Linked DNA regions of Homo sapiens: regions 1 and 2 are each linked to region 3. Evidence: fine-mapped expression QTL. A gene starts in region 3. Each other region holds a variant in brackets. All regions are shown on one strand. Distances are between the middles of the regions.

The links. PIP is the estimated chance that this variant, and not a neighbour inherited with it, causes the effect.
Region 1: its variant is the best candidate, but not a certain one, in a credible set for the expression of NUDCD3 in breast (GTEx, PIP 0.59).
Region 2: its variant is the best candidate, but not a certain one, in a credible set for the expression of NUDCD3 in whole blood (TOPMed, PIP 0.57).

The regions. Positions count from the first base shown.
Region 1 is chr7:44,340,182-44,347,156 of GRCh38, reverse strand. No RefSeq gene overlaps it. Among named protein-coding and RNA genes, the nearest start is that of CAMK2B, 18 kb to the right of the region's middle. The variant C/A (reference allele first, on the strand shown) is at 3,343.
Region 2 is chr7:44,365,001-44,371,975 of GRCh38, reverse strand. No RefSeq gene overlaps it. Among named protein-coding and RNA genes, the nearest start is that of CAMK2B, 43 kb to the right of the region's middle. The variant G/T (reference allele first, on the strand shown) is at 3,442.
Region 3 is chr7:44,487,557-44,494,164 of GRCh38, reverse strand. NUDCD3 (NudC domain containing 3) reads left to right here and starts at 3,507. Exons shown (of 6, transcript NM_015332.4): 1 at 3,507-3,756. The coding sequence starts at 3,565. RefSeq lists silencers at 1,564-1,690, 3,756-3,925.

The sequences.
Region 1 (6,975 bases), 150 kb after region 3:
AAAGTTAAAAACTTCAGTGCATCAAAAGACATTATCAAGAAAGTGAAAATACCACCTACAGAGTAGAAGAAAATATTTATAAATCATATATCTAAGAAAGGTTATCCAGAATACAGAAGGGGACTCCTACAACTCAACAACAAAAAGACAAACAATCCAATCAAAATATGGGCAAAGGACTCGAATAGACATTTCTCTAAAGTAGATATACAAATTTCCAATAAGCACATAAAAATATACTTTGTATCATTAGTTAATAGGAAGTGCAAAAACCACAATGAGATACACCTCACACATAGTAGAATGGCTGTACTTAGGAAAGAAAAGAATGTAAGTATTGAGGAGGCCATGGAGAAACTGGAGACCTCATACGTCACTGCTGGGAATGTAAAATGGCGCAGCTGCTATGGAAAACAGTTTGGTGGTTCCTCAGAGGTTAAACATAGAATTACCACTCCTAGGTATATCCCCCAAAGAATTGAAAACAGGATTCAAACATATACTCGTATGCCATTGTTCACTGCAGCATTATTTGCAATAGCCAAAAGTAGGAAAGAACCCCAATGTTAACCAGCTGATTGAGGAATAAACAAAATGTGATATTTACACAGACAATGGAATATCATTCAGTCTTAACAAGGCACAAAGTTCTGATACATGCTACAATATGGATGAACCTTGAAAACATTGTGCTAAGAGAAATAAGCCAGACACAAAAGGACAAATAATGTCTGATTCCACTTACCTGAAATATCTAGAATAGGCCAGTTCATAGAAACAGAAAGAAAGGGGAGTTATTACTTAATGGCTATAGATTATAGGAGATTATAGGGGAGTTATTACTTAATGGCTATAGAATCTCTGGGGTAATGAAGAAGTTTTGGAAATAGTTGGTGGTGATGATTGCACAACATTGTGTGAATGTACTTAATGCCGCTGAATTGTACACTTAAAATTTGTTAAAATCACAAATCGTGTTTTTTATATATATATACACACACACACTTCTCTGTATGTATACACACACACATATGTATACACAATTTTTTTAAAAGTCAAAATTTTTTCTATGCATTTTGCCTCCAGGGGATAAAAAGATTGATTGGACAAGTTAATTAGCCTCTTTAAGCCTCAGTTTCCACATCTGTAAAATGGGAATAGATATAGTACCTAGCCTTGCTGTAAAAGCTTGCTGTAAAAATCAAATGACATAATATATGTAGTCACATAGCACAAAGTCTGGCACATAGTAAGAGCTCAATATGGGGGAGCTGTCATAATTATTTTCATGTGTTCACTTTACTCTGTCTAGAAACACATTCAATTTGGTGCCATCTATAAAATTACCCTTCCTCGAGTTTCCATTTCCAGCTATAATGGAGTATTTGGAGCAGATCACTGACCCCACTGAGAACAACTAGAAAATCCAGATTAAAAAAACTGGTTTGAAGGCACTGGACAACTGCAGATAACCAGGGCTTAAGGAACCAAGTTTCCAAATAGAAGAGAATTGGAGAGAGATGAGCTGATATTCTGCACATCATTTACCCCTCCAGGTGATGACCAGTTCTTAGAGAGGCTAGGAATCTGAGCATAGGACTATTACTTTAAGAGGCAGAGAAGCCAGCAGATCTTTCAGCAATTTCATGGAGAAGAGAATAAAAAATTAATTATAGAGCTGACAGGATAGCCAGCACCCAAGAGGCCAGGAGCCCCAAACTCAGAGGTTTCCCTTGAAGCATTTGCCCATGTATTAAATACACATGGTGAGGAGCTAATAAGAAAGCCAGTGAAAAGATGAAGTTTTTCTATGATCTCATGGTTATGAAGAGACAAAAATGGGAGTTCAGGACCCTAGCTGGGGTCTCAGGAGGGCAACACCCTAGGGGTGGGCATGAAGCAAAGAGAGAATGAGATGTAAAAGGACTGCAATCCTGCCTCATGCTGCTTTGGATGAAGGTAGTCTGCTCACACTGTAGCTGCCCCAAGGATAAGGTGAATGGTCTCTGGAGGAAGTTAATGGAATCCAGAGCTTCTATAAATTGTTGCACACTATGTCCAACATTCAATTAAAAAGTAATAAGCATACCAAGAAAAAAAAAGGGCAAAATTCCCAGGTGATACAGATATTAGAGGTATCAGACACAGACTTTAAAACAGCTATTAATATTTTAGAGAAAACAGGTAACAAGATAGACAATTTCACTAAAGAAAAAATATATAAATCTCAGAGTTGAAAACACAGTAGCTGATATTTAGAATACAACAGATGTAAGAATGGATGGAATACAACAGGAGACAGGACTAATGGAAGTAGACTGGTAGGATTAGTAGAAGTAGAAGAGGATTAGTAGAAGACAGGACAACAGAAAATATCAAGACTGATACACAAAGAATTTTTAAAAGATGAAAAAATAGAGAAAAGAGTATAAGAGATATGTGGAACATGTTGAAAAGTTCTAATATATGTACAACTGAAGACCCAGAAGGAGAAAAGAAAGGTGATGGAGCAGAAGCAATATTAGAGTATGATCATTTTAGAAACAAATTAATGCCTTCAACCCACAAACTCAAGATACTCAGTAACCCCAAGCAGGATAAATACAAAGGCAATCTTAAATGTTAAAAGAAGCCAGAGGAAAATAGGGTAACCACAGGAGTAACAATCAGACTGATGACAGATTTTTCAAAACAAATTACTGGAGTCAGAAGGAAAGAAATAACATTTTTAAACTGCTGGAAAAAATCACTGCCAACCTGGAATTCTACAGAATTCTATAGCCAAAATATTCTTCAAAAATAAAGGTAAAATGAAGATTTTTTAGGGAAAAAAATGTTTTAATGTGTACAGGGAGTTCTTCTGGAATCTTGTCATCAAGGGTAACCACTGAAATAATAATAAAATGATGTCAATAGTAAGTAATAACATAATAGTAAATAAATGCATAACTAATAGAATGATAGGTATGGAGAATGGAATAATAAAAAATGTTTAATCCAAAGAAAGGCAAAAAAGAGGAAAAGGAATATAAAACAGGTGGGACAAAGAAAAAAATTCACATAGTAGGTATAAACTAAAATATATCAGGAAATACATTTACATGTAAATGGACTAAACACCCCAAGTAAAAGACTAAGATAGACTGAATGAAAACAAAATAAAACCAAAAAAAATTAAACTATATGTTGCTACAAGAGACACATCTTAAGTATAAGGATGCAGAAAAGTTGAAGGTAAAGGAATGAAAAAATATAACCATGTGTATGTTGTGGGGCCACTTTCTGACTTGATGATTCACTGGAAGGACTCACTGGCCTCACAAGAGCTGTTATACTCATGAT[C/A]GCACAGTTTTTCTTTTTTTTTTTTTTTTTGAGGCGGAGTCTCACTCTGTCGCCCAGGCTGGAGTGCAGTGGCGCGATCTCGGATCACTGCAACCTCCGCCTCCCGGGTTCAAGCACTTCTTCTGCCTCAGCCTCCCAAGTAGCTGGGACTACAGGCATGTGCCACTACGCCTGGCTAATTTTTGTATTTTTAGCAGAGACAGAGTTTCACTATATTGGCCAGGCTGGTCTCGAACTCCTGTCTTTGTGATCTGCCCATCTGGGCCTCTCACAGTGCTGAGATTACAGGCATGAGCCACTGCACCTGGCCCACACAGTTTCTTAAAGCAGGAGGTTACAGATTAAAATCACCTAATGGAAAAGGCACATGAGCAAAGTCCAGGGGAAAGTGAGCACAAGCATCCAAATGTCCCCTCCTAGTGAAGCTGCTTGGAGTATGCTTAATTCTCCCAGCAACTATGTGCAATCACATACTAAGTACTGCCAATCGAGGAGGCTCATTTGAGCCTCGATGTCCAGAGTTTTTACGGAGTGTCAGTCACATAGGCAGGAATTGTCTGCATGACTGACCTTAGCTACTCAGCCCCTAAGAGGCCAAAGTGATACAGCATAGCCCAGGACCTCAGACACACATCACAAAAGCCACATTGTTAGCATAAGCTATCTGGTTTTACTGGTTTATAGGACTGCCACAACAAAATGCCAGAGACTGAGGGGCTTAAACAACAGGAATTTATTTTCTCACAGTTCTGGAGGCTGGAAGTCCAAGACCCAAGTGTCAGCAGGGTTGGTTCCTCCTGAGGCCTCTCTCTTGGGTTGCAGGTGGCCGTCTTCTTGCTTTGTCTGCATGTGGTCTTTGCTCTTTGTGTCTGTGTGTCCTACTCTCCTCTCTTAGAAAGGACATCTGTCAGATTGGATTAAGGCTCACCCTAGGGCCTCATTTAACTTAATTACCATTTTTTTTTTTTTTTTGAGATGGAGTCTTGCTCTGTCTCCCAGGCTGGAGTTTAATGGGGCAATCTTGGCTCATTGCAACCTCCACCTCTCAGGTTCAAGCAATTCTCCTGCCTCAGCTTCCAGAGTAGCTGGGATTACAGGTGCCCGCCACCACACCCAGCTAATTTTTGTATTTTTAGTAGAGATGGGGTTTCACCTGTTGGTCAGGCTTGTCTCGAACTCTTGATCTCAGGTGATCCACCTGCCTCGGCCTCCCAAAGTGCCGGGGTTACAGGCATGATTAATTATCTCTTTAATGGCCCTATCCCCACATACAGTCACATTCTAAGGTGCTGGGAGTTAGGGTTTCAACCTATGAGTTTTGGGGGAACAAAATTCAGTCCATAACACTGACTTAATGGATACAGCATGGCCCAAGGTCTCAGGCAAACAAAAACAAGCTTTCAAGCAGGATATTCCAAGGGTTGCCTCTCTGGAACCTACCAAGGGGAAGTCCATTCTTGGCATGTGCAGGCCCTGGACCAACCAAGCCTGATGAGTTAACCTTTTTCTGCACACCATGAAAGCACTAATCAAAAGAAAGTTAATGCAGCTGTACTATCACTAAATGAAATAGACATTAAGAAAATAGGACAACTGTAGAGGAGGGGGAACATAAAGTGATAAGGTGGACTCACCAAAAATATACAATGTAAAAATCTATATGAACTGCACATAACTTCATATTATATAAAGTAAAAACTGACAATGCTAAAAGGAGAAGGAAAAATTGGCAATCACAGTGGAAGACTTTAACCCTCCTCTTATAATAAATAAGAGAACAGCAGACAAAAAACTCAGCAAGTAGAATACCTGCCTAACGTGATGAACAAACTTGACATATTTGACAGCTGTAGAATGCCATACCCAATCATGACAGCGCACGCACGCTTTTCTGATGCATATGGAACATTACAAGAATTGATCATATGGTTGAGCCATAAGTTTCAACACATTTTCAAAAGATTAGAATTATTCAGATCATGTCCTAGGAATAGAAGGGAGCTTTCTTATTCTGTTAAAAAAGTATCTATAAAAAACCTTCTTAATGATGAAATATTTAAAACCTTCCCCCTGAGATTTGGCATGAGCTGAGGATACCCACAATACTACTCGACATTGTCCTGGAGGGCCCAGCAACCACAAAAGGCAAGGCGAGCAGACCTAAAGGGAGGAGAGGAAGAAAGAAAAGTCATTATTTACAGATGACATCATTGTGTGCATCAACTATGCAAAAGAATTTCAGGCAACTTCTTAGAATTAATATGCAAAATTGGCAAGGTTGTTGGCTATAATGTTGCTGTGGATGGAATTGTGTCCTCCCAAAATTCCTGTGTTGAAGCCTTAACCCCCAGTGTGATTCAGTTTGGAGTGGGGCCTTTAGGAAGTAATTGAGGTTAAACGAGGTCATATGGGTGCCATCCTAATCTGATAGGATTGGTGGCCTTCTAAGAAGAGGAAGAAAGATCTCTCTGTCCCCATACACAGACAATGGGTAGCCAGATGACAGCCCTCTGCAAGCCAGGAAGAGGGCCCTCACCAGAACCCAACCATGCAGGCACACTGATCCTGAACTTCCAGCCTCCAGAACTGTGGGAACACTAATCTCTGCTGTTTAAGCCACCCTGTCTGTGGTATTTTGTTATGGTAGCCTGAGCTGACTAGTACAAATGTCGATATTTTTAAAATTGTGCTTATATGTATCAGCAACAAACAATAAAAAAAGATATAAAAATTACCATTTATTAGCTGGGCATGGTGGCTCATGCCTATAATCCCAGCACTTTGGGAGGCCGAGGTGGGTGGAACACCTGAGGTCAGGAGTTTGAAACCAGCCTGGCCAACATGGTGAAATCCCGTCTCTACTAAAAATACAAAAATTAGCCAGGCATGGTGGTGGGCACCTGTAATCCCAGCTACTTGGGAGGCTGAGGCAGGAGAATCGCTTGAATCCGGGAGGCAGAGGTTGCAGTGAGCCGAGATCGCGCCACTGCACTTCAGCCTGGGCGACAGAACGAGACTCTATCTCAAAAAAAAAAAAAAATCATTTATAATAGTGTTCAAAACCAACAAATACCTAGTAGTAAATCTAACAAAAGACATGCAAAACGTTTACACAGGAAATTATTTACTGAGATAAGTACATCTAAATAAGTGGAAGGATATATCCCATATTTGTGGATTGCAAGATGCAATATTAAATAATTTTGATTCTCTGGAATCTGAGCTATAGTTTTAGTGCACACACACCCCACCCCCAAATCCTAGAAGCGTTTTGATGGTGTGTGTATGTGCACGCGCTTGTGTGCGTGTGTGTGTGTGTGTGTGTAAATGACATACTGATTCTAAAATCTACTTGAAATTGCAAAGAACCAAGAATAGGTAAGATAAATTTGAAGAAGGAGAAGGAAGAGGAGGTAGAGGAGGAGGAAGAGGACAAGGATGAGAAGGGGAGGAGGAGCAACATCAAAGCTGGAGGACTTATACTACCATGCATCTAGACTCACTGTAAAACTACAGGAATCATCCAGTGTGATCTTGGTCAAGTACAGACAAATAGAATAACGGAATGAATCAGAGTCCAGAAACACTTTATCATATAATGGGAAAATAATTTTTTATAAAATTATTCCCGGG
Region 2 (6,975 bases), 120 kb after region 3:
ATGGGAGACTTTTTTTTTTTTTTTTTAGACGGAGTCTCACTCTGTTGCCCAGGCTGGAGTGCAGTGGTGCAATCTTGGCTCACTGCAAGCTCCACCTCCCAGGTTCATGCCATTCTCCTGCCTCAGCCTCCCGCGTAGCTGGGACTACAGGAGTCCACCACCACACCTGGATAATTTTTTTGTATTTTTTACTGGAGACTGGGTTTCACCGTGTTAGCCAGGATGGTCTTGATCTCCTGACCCCATGATCCTCCCGCCTTGGCCTCCCAAAGTGCTGGGATTACAGGCGTGAACCACCGCGCCCGGCCATGGGAGACTTTTTATTACAGATTCAATCTCACTGCTCATAATTGGTTTATTCAGGTTTTCTATTTCATCTTGGGTCAATATCAGTAGGTTGTATGTGTCCAGGAATTTATCCATTTCTGCTAGGTTTTCTAATTTGTTGGCATGCAGCTGTTTGTAATAGTCTCTGATGATCCTTTGTATTTCTGTGGTATCAGTTGCAATGTCTCTTTTTTATTTCTAATTTTATTTATTTGGGTCCTTTTTTTCCTTTGATTTGTCTAGCTAATGGTTTGCCAATTTTGTTTATCTTTTCAAAAAACAAATTTTTATTTTGTTGATCTTTTATTTTTCTTAGTCTCCATTTCAGTGATTTCTGCTCTGACATTTATTGTTTCTTTTCTTGGACTAATTTGGGGTTTGGTTTGTTCTTGCTTTTCTAGTTCCTTGAGATGCATCAATAGGTTGTTTTTTGAAATCTTTCTACTTTTTTGATGTAGACATTTATTGTATAAGCTTGCCTCTTAATACTGCTTTTGCTGTGTCCCACAGGTTTTGGTATGTTGTATTTCTATTTTCATTTGTTTCAAGAACATTTTTAATTTCATTCTTAATTTCTTCATTGATCCATTGGTCATTCAGGAGCCTGTTGTTTAATTTCCATGTATTTGTACAATTTTGAAACTTCCTATTATTATTGATTTCTAGTTTTATTTTATAGTGGTCAGAAGAGATACTTGATATAATTTCAGTTCTTTTAAAATGGTTGAGACTTGTTTTGTGACCTAACATGTAGTCTGTCGTGAAGACTGTTCCATGTGCTGATGAAAAGAATGCATATTCTGCAACAGTTGGAATAAATGTTCTGTAAGTGTGAGGTTCATTTGGTCTAAAGTGCAGTTTAAATCCAGTGTTTGTTGATTTTCTGTCTAGATGATCTGTCCAGTGCTGACAGTAGGGTGTTGAAATCCCCAACTATTATTATATTGGAATATATCTCTCCCTTTAGATCTAATATTTGCTTTATATATCTGGGTGTTCTGGTGTTGAGTGTGTATATACTTAACAATTGTTATATCTTCTTGCTGAATTGATCCCTTAATCATTATATAGTGACCTTCTTTGTCACTTTTTACAGTTTTTGACTCAAAGTCTGTTTAATCTGATACAAGTATAGCTATTCCTGCTCACATTAGGTTTCCATTTGCATAGAATGTTTGTTTTTTTTCTTTCATCCCTTCACTTTCAGTCTATTTATGTCTTTACAGATGAAGTGAGTTTCTTGTTGGCAACATATAATTGACTCACTTAAAAAACCTATTCATCCGGTCTATATCTTTTAAGTAGGAAATTTAATTGTTTACATTCAAGGTTTATTATTGATAGGAGAGGACTTCTATCATTTTGTTAGTTGTTTTGTGGTTGTTTTGCATATCCTTTGTTCCTTTATTTTTTCTCTTAACTCTGTTTCATTGTGGTTTGGTGGTTTTCTGTAGTGGTAAGGTTTGATTTTTTTGTCTTTCTCCTTTGTATATCTGCTCTACCAATGAGTTTTATACTTTTGCATGTTTTCATGATAGTAGTTATTGCCTTTTTACATCCAGATGTAGAACTCCTGAGCATTTCTTGCAAGGCTGGTTTACTGGTGAATTCTTTGTTTTTACTTATCTGGGAAATACTTTATTTCTCCCTCATTTCTAAAGGGTAGCTTTTCTGGGTTAATATTCCTGGCTGGCAATTTTTTTTACTTTCAGCACTTTGAATATAACATTTTATTCTCTCCTGGCCTCTAAGTTTTCTGCAGAGAAATCACCTATTTATCTAATGGGGATTCCTCTATATGTGACTTGGTGCTTTTCTTTTACTGTTTTTAGAATTCTCTCTTTGTCTTTGACTCTTGACAGTTTGACTATAATATCCCTTGAGAAGTATCTTTTTGGGTTCAATCTATTTGGGAATATTTGAGCTTCCTGGATCTGGATGTTCATATCTCCCCCAGAATTGAGAAATTCTCAACTATTATTTCATTAATTAGGTTTTCTATACCTTTTCCCTTCTCTTCTCCTTCTGAAATTTCCATAATATAAATATGTGTTTGCTTAATGGTATTCCATAAGTCTTACAGGCTTTCTTCATTCTTATTTCTTTATTGTCCCCCTCTGACTGGGGACTTTCAAATGACCTGTCTTTAAGTTCAGTGATTCTTTCTTCTGCTTGATCAAGTCTGCTGTTGAAGCTCTCTACTGTATTTTGAATTTCATTCACTGAATTCTTTAGTTGTAGGGTTTCCATTTGGTTCTTTTTTTTTATGATTTCTATCTCTTTGTTGAATTTCTCATTCATATTGTAAATTGGTTTCCTCATTTTGTTGAATTGTCTATCTATATTTTCTTGTATTTTGTTGAGTTTCCTTAAGATCATTATTTTGAATTTGGCAATTAATTGATTTCTTTTTTATTGGGGTCTGTAGCTAGAGAGTTATTATGTACCTTTGGCGGTGTCATATTTCCTTGCTTTTTCATGTTTCTTGTGCTCCTGCACTGATGTTTGTGCATCTGTTAGGACAATAGCCACTTCCAAACTTTGTAGAGTGACTCATAGAGAAAGACTTTCACTTGCATTTGGGTTTTAGTGGGCTTGCTGGAGAGGGTGTGGTGACTCTGCTTCCAGATAGATGCAGTGATATAGTTTTCTTTGTTGAATGAAGTCTTCTTCAGCTTCATTCAATGCCAGCAGTAACTATGGACACTTCAGTGACCTAGGCTGTAGAAGTTTGTGGCAGCAGTGTAGGATGTTAATGTCCTCAGTGTCAAGGGCTTTTGAGGTCCTCCTATTCTCATTTTTTCCCCACAGTGGGGGGACCTGTCTGAGGGGTTCTCCTTTGCCATCAGGTCTGACACAGCCTACAAGCAGCTACAGTGGTGCTGATTCCAACTGCAGGTGCTCAGAGTGGCCATGGGGCTGGGATCCTAGGCTCAGCATCTGTGAACCTACTGCAGCACCTGTGCCTTGTGGTATGTGGCAGGGTTTGGTGTAGGTTGCCCACAGAGCCAATATCTGTGACTCTGTGGCAACCCCTAGCTGCTTGGGCCCAGGGGCTGGTTTATAGCTGTGATTCTACCCCTGGGGACAAAGCATAGCACTGGCCTGACTCCT[G/T]GGAAGAAGGGCTGCTTTGCAGATTTGAGCCTGAGGAGCAGAATATGGCTGCAATTCAGGAACCTGGGCCAATAGAGCTCATTGGCAACTCAGGTCCCAAAGGATGAGGCATCGTGTAGTGGTGACTCTAGACCCTGGGATGGTGGGGCTTAGCAGTATCCTAGATTCTGTGACCCCAGAATGCCAGAGCACAGCTGTCATTTGGGCCTTGGGGTGGTGGGGGACAGGAAACAAAACAGCAGTGACTCCACTCCCCAGGGAGAGGGGTGTCTCAGCAGCTCAAACTCTAGGGGGCTAGTCCAGCTCCAGGGAAGTACTTGAGTATTATGGCCTGTGGGGGGTGCGAGTGTCTCAGTTCAGCCACTGCTCTGTTTCTCTGGGACCCGGGGTACTACATAAGCTCAGCCCTGGGATGTACAACTGCTCAGCTTAGCCAGGGCACTGATTGCCCAGGGGATGGTATGCTAGTTCAGCTCAGGCCTGGGGGATATGACTATTCTGGGAGGACCAGGCACCATTTCCTGGGATGCAGGGTGCTGCTTCAACTTAGGCACCAGGAAGGTGTGATTGCTCTGAATGGCCAAGATACTGTTTTTCCAGGAGAGAGGGTAGTGCTTCAGCTCTGGCCTGGGGTAGGGAGGGGTAGGTAGAGTAGCTCCACCCTTGATCCCATGGGAAAGAGTATAACAGCTGTTTGCAGCTCAGCTTGTGGATGTTGGGCTACTAGACTGGGGTAGTTCAGTGATGACTTAGCTTCAGGGATGAAGAGGAGTTGTGGCTACTCACCCGCCGAGTAAGACACTCTAGCTGTAGTTGCAATTCCAAGATGGTGTAGCACAGTAGCTACACAGGCCACAGGGGGCGAGGCACAGTGTCAGCGTCTCCTCTGGAGGGAGCATAGGTATGTGGACTGGAGGCAGCTCCCTCAGCTGGGCTTAGTCCTTGTAAAGACTGCAGGGCACCCTACTGATGAGGTCTGTATGTGTTCGAGGTGTTGGTGGGGGTTGCTGGGATCCTCTTGCTTACCTTCTTGCTGTAGGAAGAAGTTCCTCCTGGTTCCCAGATGATCCTGGTTTGGGGATGGGGTAAGGCCCAGCATTTCTTCCTTTCTTTATTTGACTATTCCAAGTTTCTGTGCTCACCAGGGTTTCTGTTACTTCTCTGATGCACTCCAGTGCTCTCCCTGTTTTTTGTTTGTTTGATTGTTTTGTTTCATTAAAATGTTGCTATTCTGGCTTTCTTTGTGAAGGGGACAAGTGCTAGGAACTTCCAGTTGGCCATCCTGCTGATGTCACCATGTATTTTGCACTTGATCTTAGCCAAAAGGCCGAGAAGCAATCGTCACCACTTATTTTGAAACAATTATAGAGTCACCGGAAGTTGTGAAGAAATACTTCATGCACCCTTCACTCAGACTACCCCAATGGAAACATTTTATGAAGCCACAGCACAGCATCAAAACCAGAAGATTGACATCAGTACCATTTACAGAGCTTATTCTGATTCCACCAATTCTACATGCACTTGTGTGTGCGCATGTGTGCTTATAGCTGTATGCAATTTCATCACATGTAATTTTATAAAACTGCTACCACAATCAAGATACAGAACTATTTGGTAGCCAAAAGGTTCCCTCGTGCTGCCTCTTTATAGGCACGGCCCCTCATGCCCAACCCCTGGAAACCACTAATCTGATCTCCTTGGCTATAATTACATTGTTTCATGAATGTTATATAAATGGAATTATGCAATGTTTATCTTTTTGAGATTGGCTTTTTCATTCACCATAATTTCCTTGAGGTCCATTCAAGATGCTGTGTATATCATAGTTTCTTTTAATTTTTGAATAATATGCCATAGTACATGGATGAACCACAATTTGTTTAATGGCCTACCCATTGAAGGACATTTGAGTAGTTTCCAATTTTTGTCTATTACAAATAAAACTGCTGTGAATATTCATATATAGAGTTTTAAAATTGAACATAAAATTTCATTTCTTTAGGATAAATACCCAGGAGTGCAATTACTGGGTCATATGTTTAAGTATATGTTTAACTTTATAGAAAATTGTCAAACTTTTTCAGAGTGCCTCTGCCATTTTACATTCCAACCAGCAATATGTGAGCTCCAGTTTCTCTGCATCCTTGCTCACATTTGGTATTGTGATAGGCAGAAAAATGGCTCCCACAAAAGTCCACATCCTAATCCTCCAGACCTATGAAATAAGTTATGCAAGGGAGAATTTTGGTTGCAGATGGAATTAAGAGTGCTAATTAGTTGACCTTAAGAAAATATTATTCTGGATTATCTAGGTAGACCCAATATAATCACAATAATCCTTTAAATGTGGAAGAAGGAGGCAAAAGAGTGATGTGAAGTGAAAAAGACTCAACCAAGCAGCCATTGCTGGCTTTGAAGGATGATAGCCACAAGCCTCATTAAACTCATTTTGGACTTCTGACCTCCAGAACTGTAAGATAATACATCTGTGGTGTTTTAAGCCACGAAATTTGTGGTGATTTACTACAGTAACACTATGAAACTATTATAGGTACTGTCAGTATTTTTTATTTTGACTGTTCTAACAGGTGTGCGGTGATATCTTATTGTGTGATTTAATTTGCATTTTACCAATGGCTAACGATGCTGAGCATCTTGTCATGTGCTTTTTGCCATATGTATATTTTCCTTGATGAAATGTTGTGTCAAGTCTTTTGGCCATTAAATATCAAGTTTTGAGCATTCTTTATATATTTTAGATAAAAGTCCTTTGCTGGATATGTGATTTACAAATATTTTCTCCTGGTCTATAATTAGTTTGTTCATCCTTTTAACATAGTCTTTTCAGAGCAATAGCTTTTAATGTTGGTGAGGTCCAGTATATCAAATTTTCTTTTTATTCATCAAGCTTTGGTGTCAAGTCTAAAAATACCTTTGATTAGTCCTAGATCTCACAGTTTTCCTCCTATTTTTCTAGAAGTTTTATAGCTTATGTTTTACATTAAGTCTATGATCCATTTTGAGTTAATTTTTTGTATAAGGTGTGAGGTTTATTTATTTATTTATTTATTTGGCTTATGAATGTCCAGTTGTTCCAGGAGCATTTGTTGAAAAGGCTGTCATTTCTCCTCTAAACCACTTTTGCTCCTTCATCAAATATTATTTTATTATTTATTTAATTATTAATCAAATGTTTGTGTAGGTCTATTTCTGGGATCTCTGTTCTATTTCATTAATCTATGTGTCTGCTCCTCTACCAATACCACACTGTCTTTATTACCGTCGCTATATGGTAAGCCCTGACATCATGAATTTTCTTCTTTTTCATACGTTTTGGCTATTCTAGTGTCTTTCCCTTTCCATATAAATTTTAAAATAAGCTTGTCTATGTCTACAAAAAAATCTTGCTGAGATTTGGGTAAGAATTGCATTAAACCAGCTAGGCATGGTGGCTCACGGCTGTAATCACAGCACTTTGGAAGGCTGAGGCAGGAGGATTGTTTGTGGCCAGGAGTCTGAGACCATCCTGGG
Region 3 (6,608 bases):
TGCTAAAGAAAATTATTCAAAACTTTGAATATAGCAAGAAGATGACTGCATGTGCTTCCAGTTATACTGAGGAATTATATAACAGGCTCACCCGAGATTCATTAATTCTCTAGGGCAGTGATTCTCAGAGTGTAGTATGTGGCCCTGGGGGGCCTCCAAGGTAAAAATAACAATACTATGATGTTATTTGCTTTTTTACCATGTTGACATTTGCAATGATGGTGCAAAAGCAATGGCAGGTAAAACTGCAAGTGTCTCAGCAGGAATCAAGGCAGGCCATTGTCCTAGCTTCCTGCTGTCACAAAGTACCATAGACTGGGTGGCTTAAACAACACATGTTTATTCTCTCACAGTCTTGGAGGCCAGAAATCCAAGACCAAGGTGTTGGTATCTGGTGAGAATTCTCTTCCTAGCTTGAAGCAATCTCACTGTGTCCTCACATGGCCTTTCTTCTGCATGTGTGCAGAGTGAGATCTCTAGTGTCTCCTTCTCCTCTTATGAGGATACCAGTTCCATTGGGTTAAGGTCCCACCCTTATAACCTCATTTAACCTTTAAGTATCTTTTAAAGGCCCTTCTAACCACCAATGTGACTCCAAATATAGTCCCATTGAGGACTGGGGCTTCAACATATGAATCTGGTGGGGGGCAGGCACATTCAGTCCATAACGGCACCAAACTCGACTAGTATGCACTGCCTTACACTTACAGGTTAAAAATGTTCAGTTTCACTTAAGAATGCTCCTGATAGCATTTAATTATTAATTTTATTAAAAGTTGTTTTATTAAAAGTTCTCCACTTGAGAACAAGTCTTTTTAATAGTGCATGATTAAAAGAGAAGTACACATAAGACATGTCTGCCTCATACTGAAGCAAAATGGTTGCACTGATGCAAAGCACTTGTGTGATTGAGTTGCCAATTGAACAAGTCACAGAGCATCATTTTTACTTGAATGACAGAATGAAGTGAGCCTGTCTCTTCAAGGAAAATAATTGATTGTATCTACTTCCAATAATAAAGTTCAAGTTTTTAAGCTAAAATTAGAATTCAAAAAACCCATATCCCGCTTCCATGAGCTTGAGTGCTTGTCAATAAAGACAGACTTCTCTGATGAGTTTAGTGGTAATTCTAACAAATGTTATTTTTTGATATTATATAATGAAATGATATTAGAAACCAAGATCTGGGGGCAAGATATGCTCGTTGCATAAAACGAGTGAACATTTGGAAGAGCTGCATAACACAGTGGACCAACATTTTCAAATGACTAATTAATACATGATGGTATAAAATCATGCATTTATTAACGATCCATTCAAAGTGAAAGACCAATCGATATTAATGTAACAGAGTATGAAAAGTCTATAGATACAGTTTTAGATTCCATATGGCAAGTAACCTTTAAGAAACTACCAGTTACAGGGCTGGGTGCAGTGGCTCACACCTATAATTCCAGCACTTTGGGAGGCTGAGAGGGGAGGATCGCTTGAGCCCATGAGTTTCAGACCAGCCTGAACAATGTAGGCCCAACCTCGTCTCTATAAAAATAATTTAAAAATTAGCCAGGCACAGTGGCATGTGCTTGTAGTTCCAGCTACTCAGAAGGCTGAGGCAGGAGGATTGCTTGAGTTCAAGAGTTCAAGGCTACAGTTAGTTATGATCACATCGTTACATTCCAGCCTGGGTGACAGAGGGAGACCCTGCCTCTTAAAAATAAAAAAAATAGAAACTATCGCTTGTAGAAGAATTTTGATGTCATTTTAAAGACAAATAGCCACATTTATTTGAAAAGACAAAATATTCCTCTCATTTGCAACTGTCTGTGTGAGGTTGCATGTTTTCATATACTTCAATGAAAACAACATAATGCAAATTATGTTGCAGTGAATGCAGATGTGAGAATCTTGTGGTCTTCTTTTTTTTTGTGGAGACGGAGTCTAGCTCTGTCGCCCAGGCTGGAATGCAGTGGTGTGATCTCGGCTCACTGCAACCTCTGCCTCCCGGGTTCAAGCGATTCTCCTGCCTCAGCCTCCAGAGGAGCTGGGATTACAGGCACCTGCCATCACGCCTAGCTAATTTTCGTATTTTTAGTAGAGACAGGGTTTCACTGTGTTGGCCAGGCTGGTCTCGAACTCCTGATCCTCCCGCCTCGGCCTCCCAAAGTGCTGGGATTACAAGCATGAGCTACTGTGCCGGCCAAATCTTGCTGTCTTCTAGTAGGCTCATTAAAGAGATTTGCAAAAATGTAAAACTATGTTACTCCTCTCACTGAACTTTTATTGCTTTGAAGAACATTATTTTTTGCATAAAAGTATGTTAACATGTAATGTGTTTTATGGTCATTTAAAAATGATTAAATAAATATTTAAACATTTTATGTTTTAATTTCTAATGTGGTAAATATTGATAAGCATAACCCATATCAACAAATGTTCTTTGGAATGTTCAACAAATTTTAAGAGGATTAATGGTCCCTAAATCAAGAGTTTCAGAACCACTGTTCTAGGGCAATTTACCTGAGTTGGATTTTATTTACAATTCATTAAAGCTTATACACTATGAAGACATGTTAACTTGCATGTTTTAATCTAGAAGAGGTGCAAATCATTTCTATACACTAGAAATGATAATCTATGGTTTTATCATCTTGTAGAACACCAGCCAGCTTTGTATCCAACCTAATCTTACTCTAATGCTTTGTCAAAATGTTTAATCTCCACTTCCTCAAAATGCTTTTGAACCAGCTTTACCATATCATTGTTAATTTGCTGAAGAAATCTTGGATATGTGTTCATGATATATTTGTATGAGTGTCATGCTTTTTACTTTTTTAAGATTATACTTTGACAGACACTAACAACATATGTATATATGACGTATATATGTATATACATACTATACACACACATACACGTACATATTTCACAACGATGGCATACGGATTCTCTATTCTGAATCTAGCTCTTTCCACTTAATATACGTTGAATGCACTCTTTATTTTCTTCGTCATCTTGACTTTCTTCTGATGCAACGCCCTGAGTTTAACTCACAGATCTGTTAATAAGAAACCCATACATCCCACATATACGCATTTTCCCGTCTCTGGCTCACTAACAAAAAGCTTACCCTAGCCCCATCTTTAACCATAGGTTCCAAATACCCAGGCTGGAATTCAACACAGAAATAAGAAAGGATCCACAGACAACGTGACAAAAATCCGAGCAGTCACGTGACACTGCACGCCCCATAATTTTTTTCCGCCCGCTTCAAACATGGCGGTCAAGCCCTCGCAGCGCAGCAGAAGCCACGGGCTTCCTTCCGCGTAGGAACCTCCTTGCTGCCCTTGTCGGGCTCTTTTGTCTAAGACCACCTCAAGGCAAAGCCCGTGGGGCAGCTGGGTCTGGGGAAAACAGCCCGGGGCCGCGGGGGCCGAACGAGCACGGACCGGAAGTTCCGCAGCCGCGCCGTCCGGCGGAGCCGTTGGCTGCGGACGCCGGAAGTGGCCAGTCGGCAGGTCTGAGGCGGCGCTGTGTGTGTGAAGCGTACCTAGGGCGGGAGGCGACATGGAGACAGGGGCGGCCGAGCTGTATGACCAGGCCCTTTTGGGCATCCTGCAGCACGTGGGCAACGTCCAGGATTTCCTGCGCGTTCTCTTTGGCTTCCTCTACCGCAAGACAGACTTCTATCGCTTGCTGCGCCACCCATCGGACCGCATGGGCTTCCCGCCCGGGGCCGCGCAGGCCTTGGTGCTGCAGGTGAGGCGGGCGGGCCTGCGGTCTGGGGAGCCGCCGCCCCCGGCCTGCCCTGACTCCTGGCGCCCGCTCCTCCAAGCTCTCCCAGCCTGTTTCCTCCTTTTCCTGGTGTCCTGGGGTTGAGCTTGTGAGAATGGCTTCAGTAATTTGAAGCGCGGATTGGATGTCAGCTTATTCCGCTGAGGTGTTCGCTCCGGACGTCCTGAGGTTTCAGAAGTAGTAAGCCGACTGTTAAGAGCCCTACTCAGCACCCGCCAGCGCGTACCCCTCACGGTGCTGGGGGCCGCTAGTCAGGGAGCGAAATCCATGCAGGCCAGACAGAAGGAAGGACATTTACAGCAACAGAAACGTGCATGCCCCAGAACTACCAAAGACTTGAGCTGGCGGGGATGACGGAGGCATTGTGTTGATCAATGGGTGTGGTCGCTTGTTTGAAATGTGACTTCCCAGGTCAAAGACTGTCAATGTAGTGCTTATTAAAATTTCTATTTGAGCTTAATTCCGTACCCTCCAGGTTAAGTTTATTGTATGTTGGAAACGCTGTCAATACTCATTCAGTGAAGTTGACTGGGCACTTTTGAATGTAGTGGTAAGCAACCTTTTGCTGAATGTAGTTTACACTCTTAGTTGCCGCAGGTGAGGGTGATACGGGTGTTTAAGTAATGGTTTCTCTCTCCTTGTGACACAGTTAAAGAGAGAAAACCCAGAAAGTAATAGAAAACTTTTTAAGGGCAATTATTTGATGGAGCCCATTGTAAAGAAAGGAAATAGAAATGATGGTTGAGAAGTGAAGTTTTTATAAGAGAGGTGGGACTTCTGATGAGATTAAAAGAAACTATTCAGCCAAGTATTAAGCCTATTTGTAGAAACCCAAGAAGATAGAAATGCTGATGATACCTCCCTCAGTTCTCTAGATGTTACAGTTTATAAAATGCTTCAGATGTTTCCTCCTGAAGTCTTAATGCATGCTGCAGGTTGGTAAGATGTTACTTTCCTCAGCAGAAGCCAAAGCTTTGAATGTCTTGGTAGCTACCAGGGTAATAGGGCCAAACGAGGAATGGGGTTCCATTAGGATTCAATTTCAGAACTTAAGGCTATTCCTCGTCCTTGTCAGTGGCATAAGTGCCATCTTAGTGATGAGAGAGCTGTTGGAGGTGGCCTTTAGCAGGATCTTATGGCAGGTTAATGAAGTCTTGCCATTTGATCTTCAGTGTCTCTGTGAAACAGATAAGTTTCAAGTTTACGTACCAATTCAGCAAGGTTAAGTGATTTGACCAAGAACACACAGCCAGTTCACCGTAGAGCTGAAACTAAAAATTTCATTTTGTGGATTCCAAATCTTCCTGTTCTGTTGTTTAACCATTCCATAGTAGGATGAGAACACTTTTGTCTAGATTGATTGTAGTTTGCAGAAAGATGTGGAGGAGAAAGGAGTATATACTGAGTAATATGTATAGTATCAGATGTTTTATATTCTGGGGTCGTTATCTTATTTAACCCTTAATATAACCTGAGAGGTTGGTCTTTGTTTCACAGATGAACTGACAGAGCACTCATTAACCTGGTAACTCATTTACCTGGTAACACCTCTTACAAGACACTTCCATAGGTTAGGATTTGGTGACCAGTCTAATGAAGTAGTGGAGATGGGGAGCAGGGATGGAGGAAGGGGAGGGATGGGTCAAAGATGATCCAAGGTTTCAACTTGGGTGACTGGAATAGTGATAATGCGTTAACTGAACTGTCACCTGGGTTTAGGGGAAAAAGTTCAGTTTTAGACAGGTTGAACTTGAAGTTGCAGGTAGGAGTCCCTGCCCATAGGCTATTGGAATTACTGGACTAGATCTTTTGGGAGCTAGAGCAACTGGAGTGGTCCGAGGGAGAGAGAAGAGCCAAAGGTGAAGAACAGGCCTTGGGGAATAATCTTGGTGGAGAGCAATAAGTTTCACAGAAACCAAGGGGACAACAGTCTCCAGCAGATGCTTAAGAGAGGTGTCATGTTTTCTGGAAGTGGTTCTCAACCATCAGCATCGCTTAAGGAACTTTTTTCTTTCTTTTTTTTTTTTTTTTTTTCCTGGAGATGGAGTCTCACTCTGTCGCCCAGGCTGGAGTGCAGTGGCATGATCTCAGCTCACTGCAACCTCCGCCTCCTGGGTTCAAGCAATTCTCCTGCCTCAGCCTCTCGAGTAGCTGGGACTGCAGGTGTGCGCCACCACGCCCGGCTGATTTTTGTATTTTTAGTAGAGATGGGGTTTCATCATGTTGGCGAGACTGGTCTCAAACTCCTGACCTTGTGTTCTGCCTGCCTCGGCCTCCTAAAGTGCTAGGATTACAGGTGTGAGCCACTGCGCCTGGCCAAGGAACTTTTAAAAGCACATATTCCTGGATATTTTGGTTGGGTAGATCAGGGTGAATCCTGGGAACCTGTTCTTTTTTTTATTTTTTTATTTTTTATTTTTGAGATGGAGTCTCATTCTGTTGTCCAGGCTGGAGTGCAGTGGCGCAATCTTGGCTCACTGCACCTCCTCCTCCCAGGTTCAAGTGATTCTCCTGCCTCAGCCTCCCGAGTAGCTGGGTTTACAGGCATGTACCACCATGCCTAGAGAATTTTTGTATTTTTAGTAGTAGAAATGGGGTTTCACCGTGTTGGCCAGGCTGGTCTTGAACTCCTGACCTCAGGTGATCACCCGCCTCAGCCTCCCAAAGTGCTGGGATTACAGACATGAGCTACTGCACCTGGCTGGAACCTGTTCTTTTATCCACAAAAGCTCATTTGACAGGAGGTTTGTAAAGGTGATTTCAGTATTGACAAGGGTTTTATTGTGGGGTGGGACAACACTGAATGAGACTGAGTG